Linked DNA regions of Homo sapiens: all the other regions are reported to be linked to region 1. The links are microRNA targets in miRTarBase. Many come from high-throughput screens and were not tested one by one. Region 1 holds a microRNA gene; each other region holds the end of a gene's coding sequence. Distances are between the middles of the regions.

Evidence for each region. The annotated mature microRNA hsa-miR-3681-3p reads ACACAGUGCUUCAUCCACUACU and lies in region 1 at 1,011-1,032, shown strand. An mRNA with a match to its seed (bases 2 to 7 or 8) in the 3' UTR can be bound and repressed. Matches are read on the target gene's strand: a 7mer-m8 pairs with bases 2 to 8, a 7mer-A1 pairs with bases 2 to 7 and ends in A, and an 8mer does both.
Region 2: miRTarBase lists SHOC2 as a target of hsa-miR-3681-3p. Seed matches in the 3' UTR shown: 7mer-m8 at 1,337-1,343.
Region 3: the mRNA of WDCP is a reported target of hsa-miR-3681-3p. Seed matches in the 3' UTR shown: 7mer-A1 at 1,128-1,134.
Region 4: the mRNA of MBL2 is a reported target of hsa-miR-3681-3p. The part of its 3' UTR that is shown has no 7-base or 8-base seed match.

Annotation. Positions count from the first base shown.
Region 1 is chr2:12,198,164-12,201,348 of GRCh38, forward strand. It overlaps MIR3681 (microRNA 3681), which reads left to right and starts at 967; the gene lies at 967-1,038. The region is part of intron 3 of MIR3681HG (MIR3681 host gene); the gene reads left to right.
Region 2 is chr10:111,011,597-111,014,781 of GRCh38, forward strand. SHOC2 (SHOC2 leucine rich repeat scaffold protein) reads left to right here. Exons shown (of 9, transcript NM_007373.4): 9 at 14-2,069. The coding sequence ends at 222. Among named protein-coding and RNA genes, the nearest start is that of MIR548E, 24 kb to the left of the region's middle.
Region 3 is chr2:24,028,250-24,031,434 of GRCh38, forward strand. WDCP (WD repeat and coiled coil containing) reads right to left here. Exons shown (of 4, transcript NM_025203.3): 4 at 1,098-2,913. The coding sequence ends at 2,684. Among named protein-coding and RNA genes, the nearest start is that of WDCP, 18 kb to the right of the region's middle.
Region 4 is chr10:52,765,437-52,768,621 of GRCh38, reverse strand. It overlaps MBL2 (mannose binding lectin 2), which reads left to right. Exons shown (of 5, transcript NM_001378373.1): 5 at 112-3,185. The coding sequence ends at 485. Among named protein-coding and RNA genes, the nearest start is that of MBL2, 5.8 kb to the left of the region's middle.

The sequences.
Region 1 (3,185 bases):
TTAAACAACCTTAGTGCTCCTCTTACCTCTTTAACATGATGGATACCATTGGCCCTTCATTAAATTGTCCTCAAACTACTGAAGCTTATAGTTTTTGGGGTCCCCTGGTGCCGTCCCCACAATGCACAATGCTCCTACACTTCCCCCATCTGAATGCAGGCCTCTTTTCCCTGCACACACTGAGCTTCATCTTCCTGACCCTCGGAGTTATCTGAGGCACCTGACTCCAGGTTCTAGAAAGTGAGATTCTCCATTATTTCTTCTCCCCACATTCCCTGGGCCTCACCTACCTGGAGATTATCTAGAGCTCTCAGCATGCTGCATGAAGAGCCTCCAGGTTTGAGTGGACCCCAGCTCCTGGGAGGCTCTCAGACTCCTTAGGAGCAACCCCAGTGACACCTTTCAGCATCAGGCGTCACTGCTGCATGCTCATTTCCTTCGCCAATCACTGCATAAACATGATTTATCTGTTGTACAGAGAGGCAACAGAAGCATTAGAACATTTGAGCTCCTTTTCCTGGTTGGCTGGAGGGGGCACTTACTTCTAGTAAGCGAGGTATTTAACATCTCTAGTCTATCATACACCAATTATTTAATATTAATTTTTATACATGCAACATTGGAGGACTAGGATTTGCTTACCTGTAAGGCCTTTTCTATCAGGATAGCATACTTTAAAGAGCCTGGAGAGGAACATAATTTTCCTTTTAAAAATAACAATTCCTGCCACGGAAGATGAATCCTGTAAGCATGCGAGCAGAGAAGCTGTACTGGATGAAGAAATCCTGTGCCCCTTTGGGTTCCCTTCACTATCTGACTGTCTCCTTCCCTCTAAAGCACAGCCTGCCTCCCAGACCTGCTTACCAACAACCTCTGATGGGACGTCCACGAGATGGCTGGAAGTCCCCAGCCTGCCTGGCTCACAAGCCCTGCACACCAAGCCCATCTTCAAGGAGACACTTGTCTACTTCCAGTAGTGGATGATGCACTCTGTGCAGGGCCAACTGTGCACACAGTGCTTCATCCACTACTGGAAGTGTCATGAGCTACTGTTCAGGAGTCCAGTGCAACCTGGAATTCTGAGGGTGTTAACTGTCCAAGTGGCAAATGGATCAATGGAAACAGGAAATAGGAAGGAGCTAGCTGGGTTATTCCCCCTCCTGTGTTTCTCCCATGTGCTACCCCAAGACAGAGATATTCGTTGTAATTTTCCTGGACAAGCCTAGGGCTGCCAGTTGTAACTTCAAGGCTTGTGGGGAAGGAGCAGCAAGGTGATGCATCACTTCACCTGGCATCCCAGATTTCTTTGCCTTTACTTCACTTCTTCCTCTCTTTCCTGGGTTTGCACATCCCAAATAAAGTCTTAGGTTTTTTTGTCTCAATGGCTCAGGCTAAGACAGAAGCCCAACTGTGAAGGCTACTCACGTTCTCACCCTGCTGTATCGTAGAATGGAGCTGAAATACAAAATTGAGATTCAACACATTCAGTCCCGACCAGAAACATTTCAAGGAAATCTGTGCTCACAGCAAGATTGAGTGATGGGACACAGCGCTTGAGATTTCAAGGCAAATGCTTTTTATGTCGTACTCAACATGATTAGCTTCACACGTTACCAAAAAAAAAAAAAAAAAAAAAAAAAACAAAAACCAAAAAAACCCCACAAAAAACTGACTCATAAAACATGTATTGATGTTGCATTTGGGAACAGCTGCAGCCAGCCTGTGTGCAGAAATACACAAAAATGATTATCTTCCTAAAATCAATCTTTGCAGTTCTGGAAGAAGACAGAAGACGGAAATAGCTCTTTGTGGAGCTGAGTGACATGTTCTGGCCAGGCATTCTTTGTTAATATAACAGATGAGAATTAGACAAATTGGAGCTGGAAAGCGCTCCTGTCATAATGTGGCTGATGGGTCTGTGGAACAGCAGCAGCCATGCCTGCAGGATGTGCTCACTGCTTTCCTGAGCTCCTTTTAAATAATCCAAGCTGTGACACTTCCCTAAGTGGAAGCTGATCTCTAAATTAGGTGAAATGTTAATATTATGTAGTTTAATCCATCCTTGAAGTCAGAGAGTTTGCAGAGGGGGTGGCTTGGGAGCCTCCTGATGGATTGTTCATTCATTCTTTCAGGCATTTATTCATTCATGTATTGAATTCAGAACTGCCCAGTAGAGCTTTCTGCTGTGATGAAGGGTCCCATAACAGCACTTTCTGATACTGTAGTCGCTAGCCATTTGTGACTACTGAGCACTTGAAATGGGGGTACAAGATGAATTTTTTATTGTATATGATTTCAGTTAATTTAAATTTGAGTAGTTAAATGTGGCTAGTGGCTACCGTATTGGATGGTGTAGCTAAACATTCATTCATTTAAAAATATTTACTGGATATCTACTAAAAGGCCTCTTAGAAGGTGCTTGGTAAATATTTTAGGGGAATAGTGGGTACTCAATATATATATTTTTAGTGACATGAGGAAGGCAAGCTGGGTCCACAAATATTTTTAGTAAAACAGGGACTAAATATTGTAAAACACACATACAATTTTATGAGACTAGATATACATATATCTGATGATAGAATAACTTATTTTATTAATTTATTTTTAATTCTATTGGTTTAAAATGGGCAAGGCAAAGATTAGGTATCTCTTCATGTCAAAGATATATTTGTGTTGAACCTGGAATGGAATTCCAAGCAGAGAGAACAGAGAAGGATGAGTAAAGGGTCCCAGAAATAGCTCTTTGGTTCATAGTGGATAAGACAAGAAGGGTCTAGAGGTTACACAAAGAGGCATAAGGATTGTGCACTATTTCCATCCAGGAAATATAAAGGCAAATTTTCAGCATGTTCAGATTAGAAAATTTATTGTAAGAAAAAAAAAAAAAAAAACACAAGAGAATTTCTGATTAGGATACAGAAGTTGTAATCACAAGTTGTTCATCAATCTTTTGTCATCCCCCAAACAAACATTGGTGGCTTTTCCAATGGCCTAGATCTACCGACTGAATTATGGCAAGAGAGTCCCAGGCAAAAATCACAGGACCCCTTGTCCTTAGCAGATTGTCTCAAGCACCACTTACTTAAATGGGTAGAGTCAAGTTCCCCATAAACAGCAAACAGTGATATGGCCTGGTGTTCACATTTGAGGAATTATTATTTTATACTAGTAGCAGCGATAAG
Region 2 (3,185 bases), not on the chromosome of region 1:
TTTTTTTAAACAGGTACACTGGAGAACCTAGAAGAACTGTATTTGAATGACAACCCCAACCTGCATAGCCTTCCCTTTGAGCTGGCACTCTGCAGCAAGCTTTCAATCATGAGTATTGAGAACTGTCCACTCAGTCACCTTCCACCTCAGATTGTTGCTGGGGGGCCTTCTTTCATCATTCAGTTCTTAAAGATGCAGGGTCCATATCGTGCCATGGTCTGATATAAATCTGCTGGTCCCACACACTGTTCAAAAATAGACTGCCATTAATGTTTCTTATCTATATCTGTATCTATTTATGTAGATATTGGTATATGGCAGATTTATAAAAATTGCATTATGTGTTTCTGCTAATAGAGGAATCATAGCCATTTAGAATTTTTTTTAAATTCTGTACAAAAGGCTTATATAAGTTTTCTTTGCTGAATTTGATGGATGTTTTTCTGTTGTGTAATCTGATATGCCAGTTTGCTTAAAACATTTGCCAACACATTATGAAGTTATTAAATTTAAGGGACAGAGGTAGTATAGTTAGATATACTTTCTCTTAGGAAAAATAATGGGCAAAAATTTTTGTTGCAACTTTTCATATATATTTTCCCCTTACCAATTGTTTTATCCTTATAGTATTGTAGGCCCTGAAAGTAGAATTTTTCTTTAACTTATTTTGAGATTTGAGATTTAAATTTTATGTATTGTTTACAGTCAGAGTAAATCACTGGATTTCTTTTGTTTGTTTTGATTTGCTCTGTTTTATTCAGTCAAATCTAGAGTTTGAATCCTCTGCTAAAGAATTTGCATCCACTGGTGTAAACAGTGAAAGGTATTTGCTTGTTGAAAAAAAAAACTGGCAAAGTGAAAAGATACAGTCAAAAATCTAGAATTTCTTTAATTTTGCTTCTCTGACGAGTTGTGAAGCAAAATACCTGAAGTGAGTCTTTGGGTAGGGGAAGGGTATTGAGACCTTTTCTAGTATGAATATTTTTTAAGTTTGGGGGAAGAGAAACTTGCAGTGAAAAGGAGTTTTTTCATTCCTGAAAGTTGCAGATCCACAAAACTAACAGGATAATTGGGCAAATAAATTACATATAAACACACACAATCTATATATGTATATACAATGCTATATAGATATGTATTTATTATATCATAAACTACAGTAGGTAACTTTAAGGATTTCTTCCTATCCTTGTACAATGACATGAATGTCTTTCTTTGAAAACTGCAATGTATGTATGTTTCAAGGTTATTTAACAGTGTACTATGGTTTTATATCTTGACTTGCCTTGTACATCTTTCAATTCTGGAATATCTGTGTCTAAGCACAATATCTTCACACTGTGCTGTATTGCTGCTGAACTAAATGCACTTTTCCCCACATATGGGGCACTGGCTTCAAACAATTCAGTTCAGTATCATTACTTTTAATCTCATCTTTCCTTTCTTGGTAGTTGTTAATACAGTTATGGAAAAGAGGCACATTGCATAGAAGCCATTGGGGAGTTCAGTGGAAGTTCTGTAAGATGTGCATGTACTATTTGATGCGTTTTCTTTGCTTCACTGCTTTTAATACTTAGCAGTATTGTTGGTCTAAGTCAATTTGATTATTGAGGAGTCTCAGAGCAAGGTGCGTTCTAGATGTCATCCTAAAAAACACTTCATATATAATTAATCACTATTTTGTATAATTACATATTGCTGCTTGTGTGTTTTTTTTTTTTTCCATTTAGTTGGGCGTTGTGTTTTACACAAAACCATTTTTGAATTAAGGCTATGATATTAAGATAGAAATTTGGACTGTTGTTCTGCTTTTCCTGGCACTCAAATTCATGACTAGTTTTGAGGTCAAACCTATGTTCGTAATGAGAGATTTTATAAGGATCAACTAAGAAATGGAAGGCAGGTGAAGATATAAAACCCTAGAATGCTTAAATGTGCTGTAAAACTATTGTAGATGTCACTGGATTTTACCAAGTAATATCCTTTCTTTTTTTTTTCCCCCCATCTGCTGTGGCTTTTCAGTTAAAATTTTGTTTATAAAAGGAATTTGTTTATTACAGCTCTACCTAGAGCTTGTGTGTTTGTGTGGTTTTTTAAATCTCGTATCCAGGTGTGTTTATATATTAAGATGTTGGGACTTGAACTTTAAAGGTAGTAACTAAATGTCTTTTCTTAAAAAAAATGGTTATTGTTTCTTAAAATGAAAATATGGTTTTTAAAGCATTTTTGTTCCACCTTTATGTTAATCTGTAACAGTAATGTAAAACGATCAGTCTTACATGTAGAAGTCATGCTGTGTGTAAACAATATAATGACAAGTTATAAAAAATTTTAAAGAAGTATAAAATGTATATCCTCTGTAGGCTGTCACCTTGTGAGAGCCCACAAATTTCATTATTTCCCAAGAAACTAAAATGGACTCTGATTAAGATATCCCTGTGAAATCAAGATATTTAATATTTAAATAGTTTGAATATAATAAGGGATATTGTTGAAGACTACATATGAGCTAATACTTTTTCCTGAAACTGCAATGGGACTAATTGGCATATCCAAAAATTTTCCTTTCCTTTAAAGAAATTATATTTAGTCTCTCCATGAGACTCAGCAAATAAAATAAGAATGTCCGAGGATGTTACATTATAAAAACATTGCTCTAAACTTTGCTTTTTGTTAATATGTAGCAGAAAAATGGCAATGGTAATGCCAAGCTGTCCTTTTCTGAGTTTAATACTTTCTAAATCCCACATGATTATTTTATACAGAAAGGAGGAAGTGCTAAATAATTTATGAACTTTATAGATACAAGTGAAAACAGTAGATGATACAGGAAGGGAAAATACACATAAAACATTTATTTGTACTTAAAATGTAGGTATTGCAATGGGAATGATCTCTAAAAAATGTAATTGCAAATTTCTAATTTATCTAATTGTGTAGCTTGAATCATTTAAAATAGATAAGTTATTATACATTAAAATTTATCTAGATTTTCTGTAAATTTTTGTTATAACCTTTTGCTTTTCATCTGTTACTTCCTTTTTTTTTTTCCTTTTTTTTTTTGAAACAGAGTCTCGTTCTGTCACCCAGGCTGGAGTGCAGTGGCGTGATCTCAGCTCACTGCAACTTCCGCCTCCCGGGTTCAAGCGATTCTCCTGCCTCAGCCTCCAAAGTAGCTGGGACTA
Region 3 (3,185 bases), 12 Mb from region 1:
AGTGGCAGGCGCCTGTAATCCCAGCTACTCAGGAGGCTGAGGCAGGAGAATCGCCTGAACCCAGGCGGCAGAGGTTGCAGTGAGCCAAGATCACACCACTGCACTCCAGCCTGGGCGACAGAGAGAGACTCTGTCTCAAAAAAAGAACACAAAAAACCTGGCAAATGAAATTTACCACACAGAGCAATGCAGAGCATGAAGTCAGGAACTCTGCAGAGGGACCCCTCAATTATCCAGCAGAGGCTGGGCTCAGTGGCTCATGCCTGTAATCCCAGCACTTGGGAGGCTGAGGTAGGCAGATCACTTGAGATCAGGAGTTTGAGACCAGCCTGGCCAATATGGTGAAACCCCATCTCTACTAAAAATACAAAAATTAGATGGGTGTGGTGGCGGGCACCTGTAATCCGAGCTACCCAGGAGGCTGAGACAGGAGAATGGTTTGAACCCGGGAGTTGGAGGTTGCAGTGAGCCAAGATTGTGCCAATGCACTCCAGCCTGGGCGACAGAGTAAGACTCCGTCTCAAAAAACAACAACAACAACAACAAAAACCCCCCAAACAAATAAAATTATCCAGCAGAATACTGATTAAAGACATAAATATGAAGACAAAACTTCCATAAAAAGGAAGATAGGTAAATGTGTGGCTTCCTTAAAATTAAAATGTTTGTCCAACACACAAGGTATAAAGAAAGAGGAGGCCGGCAGGAGTTCGAGACTATCCTGGCCAACATGGTGAAACCCCGTCTCTACTAAAAATACAAGCATTAGCCAGGCGAGGTGGTGCATGACTGTAGAACATTAAACAATCCTTTGAAGAATTTAGCTCTTTTCTCCCTGCCTCCAAAGCCAGCAAATATGAGATTATTTTCTATTGTTCCAGTGACTGTAATAATAGCAGAGGTCAAGGAAACATCTCTTGTATGAGAGTTGTCATGGAATCAGATTTGTTGTAAAGAACCATTTATATTCTGGACTGTCCACCAGAAGAAGGAATACAGACAACATATGCATATATAACTGCAAGATTATTGCCGGTTCCTCTATAGCAGCAATAATCGCAAAGAAAATACTACCAAAACATCCAAAACAGCCACAATAACCATTAGTGATTTTATTGAAGACTTATTCACAGTATTTTGACCTGAGAAATGGTGATTTTAACATACCCTTTTAGGTGCCCACATTGATCTTAGTTAACAGTCTTGTAGTTCCCTCTTTAGGCTTCAAGATAATTGTGATTTCATCGCACCCCAGATACTTCCAAGTGGAGCCAGGCCTCAGACTGTTCTCAGTCACTGCTCTCCCACAGCTGATTACAGACATTGCCTGTGCTTCCTACCCCAGCAGCTGTCTAGTGCACTTGAACCACAAAATGGGCCCTCACTTCTTTCCTAACCCAGCTCCATCTTGGTAAACTGTAACAGACAGACAGGAGTCCCCAAGGGCACAAAATAGTTTCTTTCCAGATGATTTTAAAGGAAGGGGGGAAAAGGAAGCATATGTGCTAATGGAGCTTCTATGGCTGAAACAATTTATCTGCAGATGCCTAGCCACTCACTGATCAATTTGTTATGCGCCGTGACTGAAATCTGTGATTCCATCTGAAGGCAGTGAGAAGTGGTGTTACCATCTGAAGTGGGTCAGGGCTCTTACCTGACTAAGCTGGTACTTTAGCCCATAAGTGAAACAAAATGGCACTTTTTAGGACTACCTCAGATTCGGTTGAATTTCTAACTTCCTGAAATACTTTCTCTCACAGATTCTCTGCTGGTCTCTAAGACTTAAAAGGAGAGAAAATAAAAATATCAAATTAAAGTGACAAGTTAACTAAGGGAGCTGACTACTGGGAGAAAAATAGGAAAGTTGCGTGATCCCAAAACTGGATTTAAAAAAAAAAAAAGTTATTTCAGGGACACTCATGAGTGGCCACAGCACAAAATCCTGCAGTAGGACTTACCTGGGCTCGACAGTGTGGTAGCAGCATCGGCACAACCTCAAGTGGAACCCAGAGGGGACAAATTCCCTTGAAATTTCATTCAAAATTTTCCCAGGGCCAGTTTTTAAGAGTACCTGGACCTTCGTCAGCCAGAATTTGTTAAGGAAGCAAGAGGGTTTGGTTTAAATTCTGGGAGGTCCAGGCAACATCAGAGCCACTTCCTGTTCCTGAGAGCAGAAGCCAGTGGGTCTCTGGTCCTCCTTGGAGCTCTGCTAATTCTTGCTGGTTTGAGGTTAATATGCTAGAGCACATGCCCCCCAGCAGACTCCTCAACCTCCTCTTGAAGCCAAGAAAAAGACCTATAACAATGCCAAGGTATCTTTTAAGTGCTCCTAAGACAGCTTCAATGCAGCTTTGGACAAGGGACACAAAGCCTCAGAGAAACCATAAAACACCATCCATATGGCACCATAATATTGTTTTGTTCTGAGAATTCTGCCCTTAGTCAAAACCACACAGTCATGAATACATAAACACCACTTTCGGAGCCATCTAATAAAGACTGAGCTCTGCTACACAGCAGCGAGCCTCAGCTCAGGGGAAACAGGGGGAAACCAGGAGAGCCGACCATGGCAAGCGCTTCGCCTGAGTGCAGTGGGAGTCTCATTGGCGAGTGTCCAGTGTCAAGCAGGCCTTGTTTGTAATGGTCTCATCTGAAGAGCTACACAGCAAGGACACTGCAGATATCAAGCCATGCCATCTACATGGTTACAACAGCCAGTGGTATCTAAACTGGGGGCAGCAAGGCCTGTAAAGACTTTAAGAGAAGAAACAGCACCTGGACTGTGAGAAAAAGAGTCTCTGAAGACATCTGACCTGGACAGGCTGCCATCTCTTATGATTATTTCCTGTGTGGCTGTGAAGGTTAACGGGATAAAGCCCTCACTGTCAGCAGAGAGAAGAATCCAGTGGGAATCTGCAAATAAAAATAAATACACAGGCAATTTAGTATATATTATTCTTATGATGAAACATATGACTACAAATTTTTTTTTCTGAGTGAAGGAATATAGTAGTTGATAATATTCAACTCAATCCTTGTAAGATTTTACAGAGAATGGGGTATTGGGAAGACTGGGTATTACTTAGGGTCAGGTAGGAGAAAAAGGGGAAAAAATGAAATGATATTTGATGTTCAATGTGGTGGCTACTGTTACAAGAATGAGGCATAAGAAAACAACCATGCTC
Region 4 (3,185 bases), not on the chromosome of region 1:
TGGACATACTATATTTTATCCGGCAACTGTACTCTAGAAGACTTTTTCTTGAGAAATACCTTGAGTTGGGCTTAAGGATGAGTCAGTTTCACCCACTTTTTCACATTTTAGGGCTCACCTTCTCTCTGGGCAAACAAGTTGGGAACAAGTTCTTCCTGACCAATGGTGAAATAATGACCTTTGAAAAAGTGAAGGCCTTGTGTGTCAAGTTCCAGGCCTCTGTGGCCACCCCCAGGAATGCTGCAGAGAATGGAGCCATTCAGAATCTCATCAAGGAGGAAGCCTTCCTGGGCATCACTGATGAGAAGACAGAAGGGCAGTTTGTGGATCTGACAGGAAATAGACTGACCTACACAAACTGGAACGAGGGTGAACCCAACAATGCTGGTTCTGATGAAGATTGTGTATTGCTACTGAAAAATGGCCAGTGGAATGACGTCCCCTGCTCCACCTCCCATCTGGCCGTCTGTGAGTTCCCTATCTGAAGGGTCATATCACTCAGGCCCTCCTTGTCTTTTTACTGCAACCCACAGGCCCACAGTATGCTTGAAAAGATAAATTATATCAATTTCCTCATATCCAGTATTGTTCCTTTTGTGGGCAATCACTAAAAATGATCACTAACAGCACCAACAAAGCAATAATAGTAGTAGTAGTAGTTAGCAGCAGCAGTAGTAGTCATGCTAATTATATAATATTTTTAATATATACTATGAGGCCCTATCTTTTGCATCCTACATTAATTATCTAGTTTAATTAATCTGTAATGCTTTCGATAGTGTTAACTTGCTGCAGTATGAAAATAAGACGGATTTATTTTTCCATTTACAACAAACACCTGTGCTCTGTTGAGCCTTCCTTTCTGTTTGGGTAGAGGGCTCCCCTAATGACATCACCACAGTTTAATACCACAGCTTTTTACCAAGTTTCAGGTATTAAGAAAATCTATTTTGTAACTTTCTCTATGAACTCTGTTTTCTTTCTAATGAGATATTAAACCATGTAAAGAACATAAATAACAAATCTCAAGCAAACAGCTTCACAAATTCTCACACACATACATACCTATATACTCACTTTCTAGATTAAGATATGGGACATTTTTGACTCCCTAGAAGCCCCGTTATAACTCCTCCTAGTACTAACTCCTAGGAAAATACTATTCTGACCTCCATGACTGCACAGTAATTTCGTCTGTTTATAAACATTGTATAGTTGGAATCATATTGTGTGTAATGTTGTATGTCTTGTTTACTCAGAATTAAGTCTGTGAGATTCATTCATGTCATGTGTACAAAAGTTTCATCCTTTTCATTGCCATGTAGGGTTCCCTTATATTAATATTCCTCAGTTCATCCATTCTATTGTTAATAGGCACTTAAGTGGCTTCCAATTTTTGGCCATGAGGAAGAGAACCCACGAACATTCCTGGACTTGTCTTTTGGTGGACATGGTGCACTAATTTCACTACCTATCCAGGAGTGGAACTGGTAGAGGATGAGGAAAGCATGTATTCAGCTTTAGTAGATATTACCAGTTTTCCTAAGTGATTGTATGAATTTATGCTCCTACCGGCAATGTGTGGCAGTCCTAGATGCTCTATGTGCTTGTAAAAAGTCAATGTTTTCAGTTCTCTTGATTTTCATTATTCCTGTGGATGTAAAGTGATATTTCCCCATGGTTTTAATCTGTATTTCCCCAACATGTAATAAGGTTGAACACTTTTTTATATGCTTATTGGGCACTTGGGTATCTTCTTTTGTGAAGTACCCGTTCACATTTTTGTATTTTGTTTAAATTAGTTAGCCAATATTTTTCTTACTGATTTTTAAGTTATTTTTACATTCTGAATATGTCCTTTTTAATGTGTATTACAAATATTTTGCTAGTTTTTGACTTGCTCCTAATGTTGAATTTTGATGAACAAAATTTCCTAATTTTGAGAAAGTCTTATTTATTCATATTTTCTTTCAAAATTAGTGCTTTTTGTGTCATGTTTAAGAAATTTTTGCCCATCCCAAAATCATAAGATATTTTTCATGATTTTGAAACCATGAAGAGATTTTTCATGATTTTGAAATCATGAAGATATTTTTCCATTTTTTTCTAATAGTTTTATTAATAAACATTCTATCTATTCCTGGTAGAATAGATATCCACTTGAGACAGCACTATGTAGGAAAGACCATTTTTCCTCCACTGAACTAGGGTGGTGCATTTTTGTAAGTTAGGTAACTGTATGTGTGTGTGTCTGTTTCTGGGCTGTCTATTCTAGTCTATTTGTTGATGCTTGTGTCAAACAGTACACTATCTTAATTATTGTACATTTATAGTTGTAACTATAGTCCAGCTTTGTTCTTCTTAAAGTCAAGATTTCCATATAAATATTAGAAACAGCTTCTCAATTTCTACAAAATCCTGATGAGGTTTCTACTGGGACCACATTGAGTCTATCAATCAACTTATGCAGAACTGGCAACTTACTACTGAATCTCTAATCAATGTTCATCATGTATCGCTTCATGTAACTAGAATTTCTTTAACTTAATTGCTATGTTTTGACATTTTTAGTTTAAAAACCTTGTATATCTTGTTTTGGTGGTTTTAGTGATTTTAATAATATATTTTAAATATTTTTTCTTTTCTATTGTTGTACACAGAAATACAGTTAAGTTTTGTGTGTAGTCTTACGATGTTTAGTAAACTCAATAAGTTTATTTCTTAAATCTAGTAATTTGTAGATTCCTCTGGATTTTGTATATGCATAGTCATGTAAGCTGAAAATATGGCAATACTTGCTTCTTCCCAATTGCTTTACCTTTTTTCTTACCTTATTGCACTGGTTAGCAACCCCAATACAGAGACCACCAGATCAGGTATAGACTCCTGAAAGACAATATAATGAAGTGCTCCAGTCAGGCCTATCTAAACTGGATTCACAGCTCTGTCACTTAATTGCTACATGATCTAGAGCCAGTTACTTTGTGTTTCAGCCATGTATTTGCAGCTGAGAGAAAATAATCATTCTTATTTCATGAAAATTGTGGGGATGATGAAATAAGTTAACACCTTTAAAGTGTGTAGTAAAGTATCAGGATACTATATTTTAGGTCTTAATACACACAGTTATGCCGCTAGATACATGCTTTTTAATGAGATAATGTGATATTATACATAACACATAT